4 linked regions of the Homo sapiens genome follow. The protein of the gene in region 4 interacts with the protein of the main gene of each other region in a biochemical or structural test. Each region holds a gene or a part of one and is shown on either strand. Other genes may lie near its edges.

Region 1 (3,500 bases), on a different chromosome or scaffold from region 4:
GAGTCCCCACTGGGGCACTGCCTAGTGGAGCTGTGAGAAGAGGGCCACTGTCTTTCAGACCCCCGAATGGTAGATCCACCAACAGCTTGCACTGTGTGCCTGTCACTCAATGCCAGCCTGTGAAAACAGCTATGGGGGCTGTACCCTGCAGAGCCACAGAGGTGGAGCTGCCCAAGGCCTTGGGGTCCATCCCTTGCATTAGCATGCCCTGGATGTGACACATGGAGTAAAATGAGATAATTTTGGAGCTTTAAGATTTAATGACTGCCCCACCGGGTTTCAAACTTGCAAGGGGCCTGTGGCTCCTTCGCTTTGCCAATTTCTCCAATTTGGAATGGAAACGTTCACCCAATGCCTGTATGCTCATTGTATTTTACAAGTAACTAACTTGCTTTTTATTTTACAGGCTTATAGGTGTTTTCTAATTCATCAAAAAGAGACTTTAATATTCCTTCCAGATATATAAAAGATAAAACAGAAAAGCAATGAATTTATAGCATTTTAGATAGGAAAGAACCCTTACAAAAGGTTAAGAAATCATGATATAATTTATATATTTTTTAACAAAAAAGTCCATAAACCCTATGATAACAAAAATATTTTAACCAGCTCTATTAAACATGTAAAAAATGATCAATTTAATTACCACCAGTTATTTTTAAAAGTTAAAGTAAAATATTAAAAATATAACCCAAAACAGTGATATATAATTAAATATGAAGTAATACACCAAAACATAATTGTTCACACAATAGGTAAAAGTTGCAAGCAGAGATGTCATTAGTAGTGTAGTCTGAATTATAAAGTAAAATAGAATTAATGGAAATTTATACAAATATAAAAATAATACTTTAATAATTAAAATTGTAAGTAAGGTTGTTAAGATATGTAATTTCCCACAAAGTCTTAATTATATATTTAAAATGTATGCAACTATAACAAGAAACTTTGATTTGTTGAGAAAGCTTACTAATCTCAGTAGATCTACTAGGTACTGGAGGTGGCTGTGTGCCATTGCGAGTAGGCATCGAAGACTGGTGTGATATTGGAGAAAATGGAATCATATCAAAGATGTCAGTGGAGGGCGACTTAGGTGTCATACTGCCTGCCTGCAATGAAAATAAATGAATTAGGGTAATATTTCATATAGACACATTGTAATGCTAAATATTTCATATGCATATAAAATATATGTAAACAACAATTTCAGTTGCATCATAAGAATTTGCCATTTTGTAGACCAAAAATAGTTAAGTATTCGCAATTTCATATGGTTCCACTAATTATGATAAATGCTCATTTAGAAGAAAGCAATAGAAAATTTCTGTAAAAATGCTCTCAAAGATGATGGCAAAAACGGTGACAATATTATTCCAGATGAATATAAAAGATACAGTGAATTTTTGGGATATATAGAAATGACTGCTACTTGTAACAGAGAATTAGATATATTAGAAACTATTCATGTAAAAATATGATTTCAGTAAGATACGCTGCATAAGATTACATTTTAAACTGGAATAATTAGACATAAGTGACCTGCCTTCTTAAATATAAACATTCAAATGCAATTGATTTTTTTTGCATTCTCAAAAGTAGAGTATATTTTAGTTTGTATTTATATCAACAATGGGAACCAACTGATATTCATTGCAGTACATTTTACTCCTGAAAGATTTCATCAAGTTTTCTGTAATAAATAGCAATCTTATAAACTAAATTAATAATCGCCAGTGTACTGCCCAAATCATTGAGTTTTCTGATACAGTCTGGGCCAGGACTGAACACATATAGGGAAAGATAAATGAAAATCTCATGAAAATGTAGCCAAGAAGTAATATCAAAATTAGACATTTATCACTTTGTAAAACAGGGAACAATATGTATATATGTATAATCTCCTTTGAAAACCATCTGATTTGATCAGGGATAAAAGAGAATTTCCATTTTGGGGGAATAGTGGCGAAAAATTTGCTTTTCCTGTGAGAACTTGGACAGAGATTGCTTCCAGTAGTTCATATTAAAATTAGAATTCTCAGAATACGTTTAATTTTCTGATTCACAGGTAGTGCAGGTGATGAAAAAATCAGGCTTATTGTGTGTAGAGAATGATGGGTTTGCTATTCAGCTAAAATAATTGCTAGTACATTATTTTTCATGCAGGAAAATTGCTGTCATCCCCCTTTCTTTAACAATTTGTTTATTGTATCCCCTCACCCCTTTACTGTTACTCAGCAATACCATTCCCCTAATTATCCCATTCCTGTATCCCCTCTCACTTCTATATCTCTACTCTTTTTCACGATACAAAAATTCTAAAATCTTGGCTGTCATTAAAAGCAAAACAAATCAATCAAAAATTTATTTACTCTGTCCCTCTTTAATCTTCCAGCCTCTATTCTGTTTTTCTTTTTCCTTCAAGGCTAAGCTCCTTGAAAGAGATACTACACTTTCTGTCCTAAGATTTACTTCATTCTATCTTTAACTCTTATCAATCTAGATTTGTTCTTTTTGCACTGAACTCTGCTGAAATTGCTCTTACCAATGATCTAATTTCCCAACTGCAACATCTGATAGATCCTTTGAAGTATCTGTATGTAAATTTCTACACTGTCACCACCCTCTACTTGAAACTTTCTGGTATCAGGTAATCAAAGAAAACAACAATGGCACACAAAGGCTCCAGATCACATCACATTGACTCAAGATACATCTAAATTTTTGATAACTTTACAAATAGCACATTTTGGCAGAATTTAAGCAAAATAAGTGGGATAATAAAAAAGAATTATCTGCTTAGCAAATTACATGAGGTCTTGGGATGCTGCTCTCACTGACTGGCTTGGGAAAGCCACATTTAGAAGGTGGTGGTATTAACAGTCCCAGTGATAGTCTGGAATCAGGCGAGTTGATAGGAGTGACAGAGATGGAAGAAATATTGAGACAGGGAGATGAATCACCATTACTACGCCAGAAAGAGGATGAGCATCTCTGAAACACATGTTGTTCATGATCAGACATATTGTGCAGCAGCTGTAAAGGAATGACAGAAAAAGAAATATCCTAAGAGGGCAGGCATGGAGGAAAGGAGAAAGTATACTTGAAATTTATTTGTAAAATGGTGTTTTGTTAAGATGATAAGATCATTTCACAGTAACTTTTCTAAAATTAAAACATAGAGTTAGAGTTGATTTTCCTATGTGATAGTCCTTAGATTCTGGATTGCTTAATTTGATCTTTTTTTTACTGAAATATTACATTTTTTGGTATTTTAAATAGAATATTGCATTCATCGGGACCTAAGAGGAAGGTAATGGAGAGAAACATGAAGAAAGCCTGAAGATTTATTTTGGAGAGGGCTTCTGTAATGAAATGGAAAAAGGAAGGATAGTAATGAGAGAACAGTTACAGAACTAGGAGTAAACTCTTGTACATAAAGTTATGGTTGTGTAGAATTTTCAAAAGGGATTACAACATACATTTTATATTTAATCCTCAAA
Region 2 (3,500 bases), on a different chromosome or scaffold from region 4:
CCTGGCCAGCAAGGAGTGAAGCTCCATGCCCCTTGGTCCACGCCTCTAGAGTCTGAGCATATCCTGCAGCCTCGATCTCAGGAGGCAACGCATGCAGCCCCCCTGCACTCAGAAAGGGGGCTTCTCCAGTCGTGGTCTTCTTCTCTGTCCACAAGTTTCCAGATGGCCCCTCCTTGGAGCCCCTGCCCAGGCAGGGAACGGCCACATCCTCGGGCAGAGCCAAGAGTCACCGTCTTTCGTGGGCCTGGGACCAGGCCCAGCCAGGACGCTAGGAGGCTGCCTCTGCTGCCATGGGCTGGATCAACATGGTGGTGGCCTGCAGCGGGTAGTAGCGGCCCCGCCAGGTCTTCCAGAAGATTCCCTTCTTAAGCTTCTGCCGCTGCTGTGGGATGGAGCGGAAGTACTGGCCGTTGAGGTTGGAATGGCTGCAGGTGCCAAACCACCAGCCTCCTGCCGGGGTCAGGGGAGAGGGAACATGGTCAGGTCTTTGAGCCACCGATGGGGCTGAAAGGAGATAGGGATAGGGTTGAGGATGAGGCAGGTTGGGGACCAGGCTGGGCTTTGGACTTGACTTTTTTTTTTTTGAGATTGAGTCTTACTCTGTCACCCAGGCTGGAGTGCAGTGGTGCGATCTCAGCTCACTGCAACCTCCGTCTCTCAGGTTTAAGTGATTCTCCTCCCTCAGCCTCCCGAGTAGCTGGGATTACAGGCGCCTGCCACCACACCTGGCTAATTTTTGGTCTTTTTTTTTGAGACTGAGTCTCACTCTATCTCCCAGGCTGGAGTGCAGTGGCACAATCTCGGCTCACTGCACCTCTGCCTCCCAGGTTCAAGGGATTCTCATGCCTCAGCCTCCTGAGTAGCCGGGATTACAGGCACCCGCCACCACGCCTGGCTAGTTTTTGTATTTTTAGTAGTGAGGGGGTTTCACCATGTTGGCCAGGTTGGTCTCAAACTCCTTACCTCATGTGATCCACCCTCCTCAGCCTCCCAAAGTGCTGGGATTACAGGTATGACCCACTGCGCCTGGCCTAATTTTTGTATTTTTAGTAGAGACAGGGTTTCACCATGTTGGCCAGGCTAGTTTTGAACTCCTGACCTCAGGTGATCCACCCACCTCGGCCTCCCAAAGTGCTGGGATTACAGGTGTGAGCCCCCACACCCGGCCTTATTTTTAAGTTTAAAAACAATTTTTTTTGAGACAGGGCCTGGCTCCATTGCCCAGGCTGGAGTGCAGTGGTGTGGTGATGGCTCAATGCAGCGTCAACCTTACGGGCTCAAGTGATTCTTGTACCTGGGCCTCCCAAGTAGCTGGGACCACAGGTGTGAGCCACCATGCCTGCATTTTTTCTTTTTCTTTTGAGGCAGGGGTCTCACTCTGTCACCCAGGCTTGAGTGCAGTGGCGCAGTCTCAGCTCACTGCAGCCTTATCTCCTAGGCTCAAGAGATCCTCCCAACTCAGCCTCCCAAGTAGATGGGAACACAGGCAGGCACCACCATGCCCAGCTAGTTTTTTGTATTTTTAATTGAGACAGGATTTCGCCCTGTTGCTCAGATTGGTCTCCTGGGCTCAAGTGATCCACTCGCTTCAGCCTCCCAAAGTGCTGGGATTGCAAGTGTGAGCCACCGTGCCTAATTTTTTTTTTTTTTTGAGAATTGCTTGAACCCGGGAGGTGGAGGTTGCAGTGAGCCGAGATCGCACCACTGCACTCCAGCTTAGGCAACAGAGTGAGACCCTGTTTCAAAAAAAAAAAAAAAAAAAGAATCCTGTGGAGCACCATTATAAAGATGTTTGTGGCCGGGTATTGTGGCTCACGCCTGTAATCCCAACACTTTGGGAGGCCGAGGTGGGCAGATCACTTGAGGTCAGGAGTTCAAGACCACCCTGGCCAACATGGTGAAACCCCGTCTCTACTAAAAATACAAAACAATTATCTGTGCATGGTGGCGGGAACCTGTAATCCCAGCTACTCAGGAGGCTGAGGCAGGAGAATCACTTGAACCCAGGAGGCGGAGGCTGCAGTGAGCCAAGATCACGTCACTTGCACTCCAGCCTGGGAGACACAGCGGGACTCTGTCTCAAAAAATAAATAAGTAGGCCGGGCGCGGTGGCTCACGCCTGTAATCCCAGCACTTTGGGAGGCTGAGGCAGGCAGATCACGAGGTCAGGAGATCGAGACCATCCTGGCTAACACGGTGAAACCCCATCTCTACTAAAAATACAAAAAAATTAGCCAGGCGTGGTGGTGGGCACCTATAGTCCCAGCTACTCGGGAGGCTGAGGCAGGAGAATGGTGTGAACTCAGGAGGTGGAGCTTGCAGTGAGCCAAGATCGTGCCACAAAGCACTCCAGCCTGGGTGACAAAGTGAGACTCCGTCTCAAAAAATAAATACATAAATAAATAAATAAACAAACACATAAGTAAATAAAAGTAAAGACGGTCAAGACCCTTTTCAGGATGGGAAAACTGAGGCCAGATAGGCTAAGTTAGTGGCCCAATCACACACACGGCATGTAAGGAAGAGGTGGGGGCAGGAAACAGATGCAATGTGGGGTTGAAGGCAGGACAGAGCAGCAGAAAGATAAGGAGGGAAGCTGCTGGCTGGGTGTGGCATGGCAGGGCCTGCTCACCAGAGAGGCTCTTGGCGCAGTTCTTGTCCCTGCGGAGGTCGTGATCCTGGTCCCAAGTGGAGAAGGGTACGGAGAGGCCGCTGGGTGGGACGGTGGTGGCGCCCAGCTGGCCGGCCACGGGTGCAGTGAGCTGCAGGCTATAGGCCGTGTCCTCGCCACCCAGGTGCACGGAGAACTGCAGCAACTCGGCGTTGCCATCCCAGTCCCGCAGCTGCACGGCCAGGCGGCTGTTGCGGTCCCCCGTGATGCTATGCACCTTCTCCAGACCCAGCCAGAACTCGCCTGGAGTGGGAGAGGCCACTCCATGAGGCAGGGCCACTTCTGAGGGTCCCTCTTCCTCCCCTGCCTCTGTCCCCACTAGAAACACCTACCGTGGGGATCCCCAAACCCCGCCTTGTAGGCTTCCCAGGGCCGGTTGAAGTCCACTGAGCCATCGTGGCGCCTCTGAATTACTGTCCAGCCTCCATCTGCCCAGAAAGGTACAAGGTCACCAGGAAGTCCCTCTTCACAGACGACCCCACTCCCTCATCTGGCTGCCAAGCACCAAACCCCCTCCAAACCCAGGAAGACAGCAGCTCCCTCACTCATCCCTGGAGGACTCGAGGAGGGTGGGTCAGAGGGAGGAATATTATGGGCTGGCCTTGGGAAGATCTTTGTCCCAAGAACCCAGCAGGGACTGAGTGTGGGAGGGAGTAGGCAGTGGAAATCTGCAAAGCCTCTCTGGGCCAGCTGAACTGGGTAAAACCCCGTGTTGTAACCTCTTGTAATGGAAAGGACTTCTCAGTGGAAAAAAAAGCTTTCTTTTTTTTTTTTTTTTTTTTTAGAGATGGAGTCTCACTCTGTTGCCCAGGCTGGATCGCAGTGCCGC
Region 3 (3,500 bases), on a different chromosome or scaffold from region 4:
GCAGATCAGCTGACACAATCTCCTCCTAATGAAAACATCTGGTTCTACAAAATTCATTTTGCCCCAGTGGATGTCTTTACCTCCAATTAAGAACGAGAGATGCTACACTTAAAAGATAACACTTAGAGAATCCCTCACAAAAGTTTAAGTACTTGCTCCAAAATGCAAATTTTTTTATTTTATTTTTTCTTTTTGGAGGAGTCTGGCTCTGTCACCCAGGCTAGAGTGCAGTGGTGCTATCTCGGCTCACTTCAACCTCCACCTCCTGGGGAAGTTCAAGCAATTCTTCTGCCTCAGCCTCCTGGGTAGCTGGGACTAGAGGCACGCGCCACCACGCCCGGCTAATTTTTCTATTTTTAGTAGAGATGGGGTTTCACCATGTTGACAGGCTGGTCTTGAACTCCTGACTTTGTTATCCACCCGCCTCGGCCTCCCAAAATGCTGGGATTACAGGTGTGAGCCACCGTGCCCGGCCCCTAATGATTTTTAAAAGCCAGACAATCTATATGGCACTTTACCACTGAGCAATCGAAAGCAATTTTAGCACTTTAACCACCCCACCCCCGCCTTTTTTTTTTTTTTTTTTTTTGAGACAGAGTCTCATTCTGTTGCCCAGGCTGGAGTGCAGTGCCATGATCTCAGTTCTCTGCAACCTCCACCTCCTAGGTTCAAGCGATTCTCCCACCTCAGCCTCCCAAGTGGCTGGGATTACAGGCGTACACCACCACGCCTGGCTACTTTTTATATTTTTAGTAGAGATGGGGTTTTGCCATGTTGGCTAGGCTGGTCTCCAACTCCTGACCTCAGGTGATCCGCCCGTCTCAGCCTCCCAAAGTGCTGGGAATCCCAAAGCTCCTCCTAATACTGTGGGCAAACCGTGTACCCACTTAAAGGGACATACCAAAGCCTGCAGAGAACGAGTGAATTCAACATGTTAAACCTAGCAAAGAGTAATGCCCAAGTATCCACCCCAACCTCTCCTCCTCTCTACCACCACTGCCACTATCCCGCCTCGGCCTTCACCTCCTGTCACTGGACCACTGCCCAAGGCCAACCATTTTACCAGCTCCTTCCCAACACACATCTGGATCAAGTCCCCTACTCTAAGGGATCCCCAATTCCAACAAAATCTTTCAGTGACTCCTCAATGCTTAAAGAAGATGTCTCTCCTCAAGTCCAAATAATACCTCCTTGAAATTCCCACTACTCCCTAACCTTTCTACCATTCCCAAAGGTCACTCTTAGCCCTACTGCCACACACAAACACCTCACCTCTCCCCTCCCTTTCTTCAATAAATGAGGGGTCTAACATGAGCACAGTGTCAAATGGGCATCGAATGAGCAAACTCTTAGCGTTAGCTCCCCTTACCATCAAGGTCTTTGGGCCTAGGGTACCCTTGTCCTCAATCTCCAAGGTCCACATTGTACCCTTCCTCCAATGACAAGATCAGAATGGGTCAGTCTTCCACAAAATCTATGGTCCCTCCTTTGAGTGAACCTTGATTTCAGACATTTTACCTGCTGGATTCTAAACTCCCTGACTTCCACGTTACTGTTACCGGATTTCCCCTCTGTCAGTCCTTCCAAGACTCAGAATTGTCCTCAGGCTGGCAATCTTCTTTTCTTTTCTTTTTTTTGAGACAGAGTTTCACTCTTGTTGCCCAGGCTGGAGTGCAATGGCACAATCTCGGCTCACTGCAACTTTCACTTCCCAGGTTCAAGTGACTCTCCTGTCTCAGCCTCCTGAGTAGCCGGGATTACAGGCACCCCCCACTACACCCGGCTAATTTTTCGGTATTTTTAGTAGAAACGGGGTTTCACCATGTTGGCCAGGCTGGTCTCGAACTCCTGACCTCAAGTGATCCGCCCACCTGCGCCTCTCAAAGTGCTGGGATTTACAAGCGTAAGCCACCGCGTCCGGTTGACAATCTTTTATTCAAGACATTTGGAACACCAGCCATCACATGCTCACAAAATGCAAAATAACAGTAGTTACCCCAAGAACACAAAAATGGTCAAATAAATATTTAAAATAACAATAAGGCCGGGTGCAGTGGCTCATGCCTGTATACAATCCCAGCATTTTGGGAGGCCAAGGCGTGCAGATCACTTGAGGCCAGGAGTTCAAGACCAGCCTAGCCAACATGGTGAAAACCCATCTCTATATACAAAAATTAGCTGGACGTGATGGCACGCACTTGTAATCCCAACTACTCAGGAGGCTGAGGCAGGAGAATCACTTGAACCCGGGAGACGGAGGTTACAGTGAGTAGAGATGGTGCCACTGCACTCCAGCCTGGGCAACAGAGCAAACCTCCGTCTCAAAACAAAATAACAATAAAATCCAAAATAACATGGAAACAAACTTGATTTATTTCTGGTTTTAATTTTTCACACTATCATTCTCCTCACTGATCATACCAGACACTTCTCTTATAAATATATGGTACTCTGAATGTAACCTTGTGAAGAGAAATTTACAATTTTAAGTTTATGAGTATCCGTCTCTCAAAAACCTAAGGGTGAAAATAAATTTCTCTAAACAGAATACACCCCGTTTTTCACCTCCTTCTTTTAAGATGAAGTTACATACTGTTCAACTATACCAGACCATTTACCACTGTTGTCAGAGACACAGAAAATTAGAAGTTATCCCCAAAAAACTGGATCAAGTCCCCTACTCTCAGGGATCCCCAATTCCAACAAAACCTTTCAGTGGCTCCTCAATGCTTAAAGAAGATGTCTCTCCTCAAGTCCAAATAACATCTCCTTGAAATTCCCACTACTCCCTAACCTTTCTACCATTCCCAAAGGTCACTCTTAGCCCTACTGCCACACACACCCCTCCCCCTCCCTTTCTTCCATAAATGAGGGGTCTACCATTAGCACAGTTTTGCAGGAGAGTCGTTCGCCCCAAAAGAAGCTATTTCATACGACATATCAAATCTCAGAAAACTCCCTCTTTTCAACTCACTCACTTCATGTAAATATAGTTGCCTCAAAATAAGCAACATCTGCGCTAATGAAAAATAGAAAATATGACACTAAAATAAATTAGGACAAGTTGTTCAGCTTACAGATTTTTTTTACCTGAAATTATGTTTAAAAATAAAGACCTTTTTATAAATAACAATTCAGCAACAAGTATTTCTCAAACTTTAATGCTATTCATCCTAAAGGATGTTTAGCAGCAATAAACAAACTCTAAAGTGTTAATAATGTAATCCCAAATCTACCACAAGCAAATCATACCAACAAAAATCCTAAATTAACTCCTACACATAATTGTAAATGGTTCTAGAAATTAAATAGTTAAAAAGAGGAAAAAAAGAGATGTTCTGCTATTTTCACCACTTCTAAGATTGAAGTTCCCAGTACCCGCTTGTAAACATTAAAGAACTTGTTATAGTAAAAAAAAAAAAAAACACATTTTACTGATGTATGAGACAATCAAGAAAACGTTAATAGTGAATATATGACATTTTTCTAAGTGTGATAAC
Region 4 (3,207 bases):
AAGAAGATTAACAGGATGTGAAGGGATTGTATAAATGTGAAAGGCTAGTAAGGCTGAAACTTTTTCTCCTCCAAATATTTCTGACATTTGTTGTATGCTTAAGAAAGCAGCATATATTTCTTCTAATAAGCTTTACACAAGTAGTACTTATGGATATATCCTTTCAAACAGAAACCAAAGCCAAATAAAAGTAAAATTTTTCCTAATTTTTCTTATCAGAAAAGTTAACAATCCCCTATCTATATCTTAAATAAAATGATACAATTTCCAGCACCTACTAATGGCTCTAAGATGTTCATAAAGTTAATTCTGCTTAATATTGGGATGAAACCTCTCTCCCAGCGTAGCAGGATAAGTAAGGATCTATCCACCATGATTCAGAGAGCCCAAGGACAGTCTTCAAGTCTGTATTTCACCATACCACTCTCCTTATGTCCCTAGTACATTTTTTTAAAGAATTATGTTTTAGCTTCATAAGTGAACTACCCACCAACCAGAAATGCTTTTCCTCAACTTCTTTAATCTATAAAAATTTCATGCACACAACCTGATAAAATACATCAGAGTCAAGACATCCGATTTAAGTATTTTAGGCATATTTAATAAATAACTTCAGTAAATAGCACTGTAAAAAGTGAACTGTTAAAACTAAAGGCACTTAAAACAAGAATGTGACTAGTGTGAAACAAGATGGGCAACTCAAATGGTGAGAAGTAAACATACAGTGGTCTGTTATGGCACTAACTCAAAGTAAGACTCGCGTAGGTGAGAGCTGTTGCATAGCCACAGTATAACTTCACATGTTCATTAAAAAGGCAAATTGACCGCTAAAACTTCAAAGAAAAAGTACTCATAAAAAAAGTCTTACCCCAAAATTGCAAACAAATACATTAAAAGATTAGAAGAGGTGACAGAAAGCACCAGACATTAAACAAAATAAAAATAATAAAATAAATTCAACTCAAAAGGTCCCCATTCAGCAAATACTTTGTAAAGTATGGCCTGTATGTAAATAGTGCTAAATCAAGGACTTTTTAGCAGAAAATTGCTCGGTTCTTTTATCTAAGGCTTGAATTTGTAAAGTGAAGGCATAAAAGTTACCAAACATTAAGTAACTCTTAAAATGGCACACAGGTTTTAAAGCTATTGGTTTTTCCTTCCTAACTCTCTGAATTTTTCCCATGGCCTTTGTAGATCAACTATTTCAAACGTATTTTACACCAGCAACTCTCAACATACTTGTCTTTCAGATATGTCATCAGTCATGTCTAACAGGCAAATAGCAAAATAACAGATTTAAAACAATCCTTAACTAGCTAGCAGGACATTTACTTTGGATTCTGCATAACTGCAAACTGACATATTTGTAAAGCTAAAAATCAGTTTTAATACATGATTAACAGAAACTCTCATCATGCTCATTACTTTAACTATTGCCCTTTCAATCGCTATAGAAATATCACTTAATCCAATAAGCTTGATTTCAATAGTCCAGGAAGAAAAGGTCAAAAAGGCACAATGTGACCTTAGCTGACAAGAGTAACCATCCTGTCTCAAGTCTTTTGTCAGTCCCTGGCATGAATTACAACATTATTTTCAAAATAATAAAACATTTTAAAAATTATACATATTGTACATTTTCAAAACCTGCACATGAGTAAAACCATGGCAATATTGCCCTAAAGCTACCTAACTGTGACTATGGAAATTGCTACTTTGCATTCAGTGTTGTGGGATTTGCACGGGCAGTACTCATTTTCCCTCATACTTCGGATTGACCACAGTTGTTACGGCACTCTTATAAATAGGATTTTCACCCTACAACAAAAAAAAAGTGAGAAAAATTATCAGTTACCCTACTAAAATTATGTAGAATAATTTTTATAAATCAAGACTAAAAGTTGCAATCATCTTAAGAAGTCATTTCTATTTTATTTGTCCAGATATCACAGTTGTTTTAAAGGCATTAATAATGGTTTATATAAAAATAGAAAATGGAAGCTTTGCTTTACAAGTCTAATGATGCCCCGTTATCTGGTGCTATTTCATTCTTGAGTCCTTCCTCCACTGGAGGCTTGATTTAAGAATGTTCTCCATGGCACAGAATGTGCTGTCATCGTGGATTCTCTCCTCTGAACTAGTTTGCAATGCCTGCCTTAATGAAGCATGAACTCCGCTGCCATCACTGCCTGATTCTTATCCCTTTATCGTGAACAGAAGGCGCCTGCTAATCAAAACGGGAATCCTCGGCTTTCACTGCTGGGAGGGAGGTGTGCTTCTGGGGTCTCCTACGGAAGTTACTAATTTAGAGAGTAAGGCTGTCATTGTGTCAGGGACAGCACTGCGCCCCACCAAGTCACACTGCCAAATTTGCTTAGAATGTTAGATAATTACCATTCCTTATGAAATAACTTGTTATGCTTCAATATCATATTGGTGAAATGTCTTATTGCAGTGCTATAATTTAGTAAACAGTACTGAAGTCAAGCCTAGCAAGCAGGCCCCAAGCCATAAACACAAGAGATCTTTCAAGATCCAAAAATATACTGACAGTGATGTTTTAAGCAGAAAAAAACATATCACTGTATCACCCTTTTCCTTAAAAATTCTCTTATACTATAACTGCTACATTTAAATACTTGCTATAGCATTCTTTTTTCTCCTGTTCTTATAAATTGAAAGCAGGCTTGAAAGCCAAGTGAGAAGTGTGACCAAATAACACTTAATCAGAGAAAATTACAGTGAGTACAAATAAAAAATACTTGTTAACTACCAGGGAAATTTTTTTTAAGAAAAAATTAAGATTTTGGAATGTTGTTCAGTTTTATATCTCACTATAGAACCAACTGCAGGTGATTTTTAAAAAAATATTTATAGAAAGCATCTAAAACATTTTTTGATCTAAAAGTAATTTTTGTTTTTAAATTTTATTCACACTTCATTGCAGACTGTATTTGGATCTGCCTTTTGGTGGCACAATTTCTGCCCTCAAGGAAGGTATAGTTTGGTGGGTGAGAGACATGAAAATAAGGCACTCTGATGAAGTTTACAATAGAGTTATGAACATAATCTGGGAATAGTATAAGAAAAAAGTTATTAACTTTAAGAAGATTAAGGAGATTTTCATTGTGAAATTGACTAGAAAAATTATTGGTTGGTAAATAGCAATCTATGCAAAGTCAAGGTGTAGGGAAAAGAATGGGACAT

The links. Proteins that work in one complex are often made in the same cells at the same time.
Region 1: the proteins of ITGB1 (region 4) and GULP1 form a complex in vitro, tested with the Homo sapiens proteins (one study listed by IntAct).
Region 2: the proteins of ITGB1 (region 4) and ANGPTL4 interact in a biophysical measurement, tested with the Homo sapiens proteins (one study listed by IntAct).
Region 3: the proteins of ITGB1 (region 4) and MAP4K4 form a complex in vitro, tested with the Homo sapiens proteins (one study listed by BioGRID).

Annotation. Positions count from the first base shown.
Region 1 is NC_000002.12:188,581,874-188,585,373, reverse strand, and holds part of GULP1 (PTB domain-containing engulfment adapter protein 1), read right to left. Parts: intron 3,034-3,500; coding exon of another isoform or gene 2,809-3,033; intron 1,110-2,808; coding exon 971-1,109; intron 1-970. UniProt on the Homo sapiens protein: May function as an adapter protein. Required for efficient phagocytosis of apoptotic cells. Modulates cellular glycosphingolipid and cholesterol transport. May play a role in the internalization and endosomal trafficking of various LRP1 ligands, such as PSAP.
Region 2 is NC_000019.10:8,370,655-8,374,154, reverse strand, and holds part of ANGPTL4 (angiopoietin-related protein 4 isoform a precursor), read right to left. Parts: intron 3,100-3,500; coding exon 3,004-3,099; intron 2,915-3,003; coding exon 2,633-2,914; intron 505-2,632; coding exon of another isoform or gene 451-504; coding exon 269-450; 3' UTR 1-268. UniProt on the Homo sapiens protein: Mediates inactivation of the lipoprotein lipase LPL, and thereby plays a role in the regulation of triglyceride clearance from the blood serum and in lipid metabolism. May also play a role in regulating glucose homeostasis and insulin sensitivity.
Region 3 is NC_000002.12:101,700,707-101,704,206, reverse strand, and holds part of MAP4K4 (mitogen-activated protein kinase kinase kinase kinase 4), read right to left. Parts: intron 1-3,500.
Region 4 is NC_000010.11:32,899,818-32,903,024, forward strand, and holds the end of ITGB1 (integrin beta-1 isoform 1A precursor), read right to left. Parts: intron 1,819-3,207; coding exon 1,753-1,818; 3' UTR 501-1,752; downstream 1-500.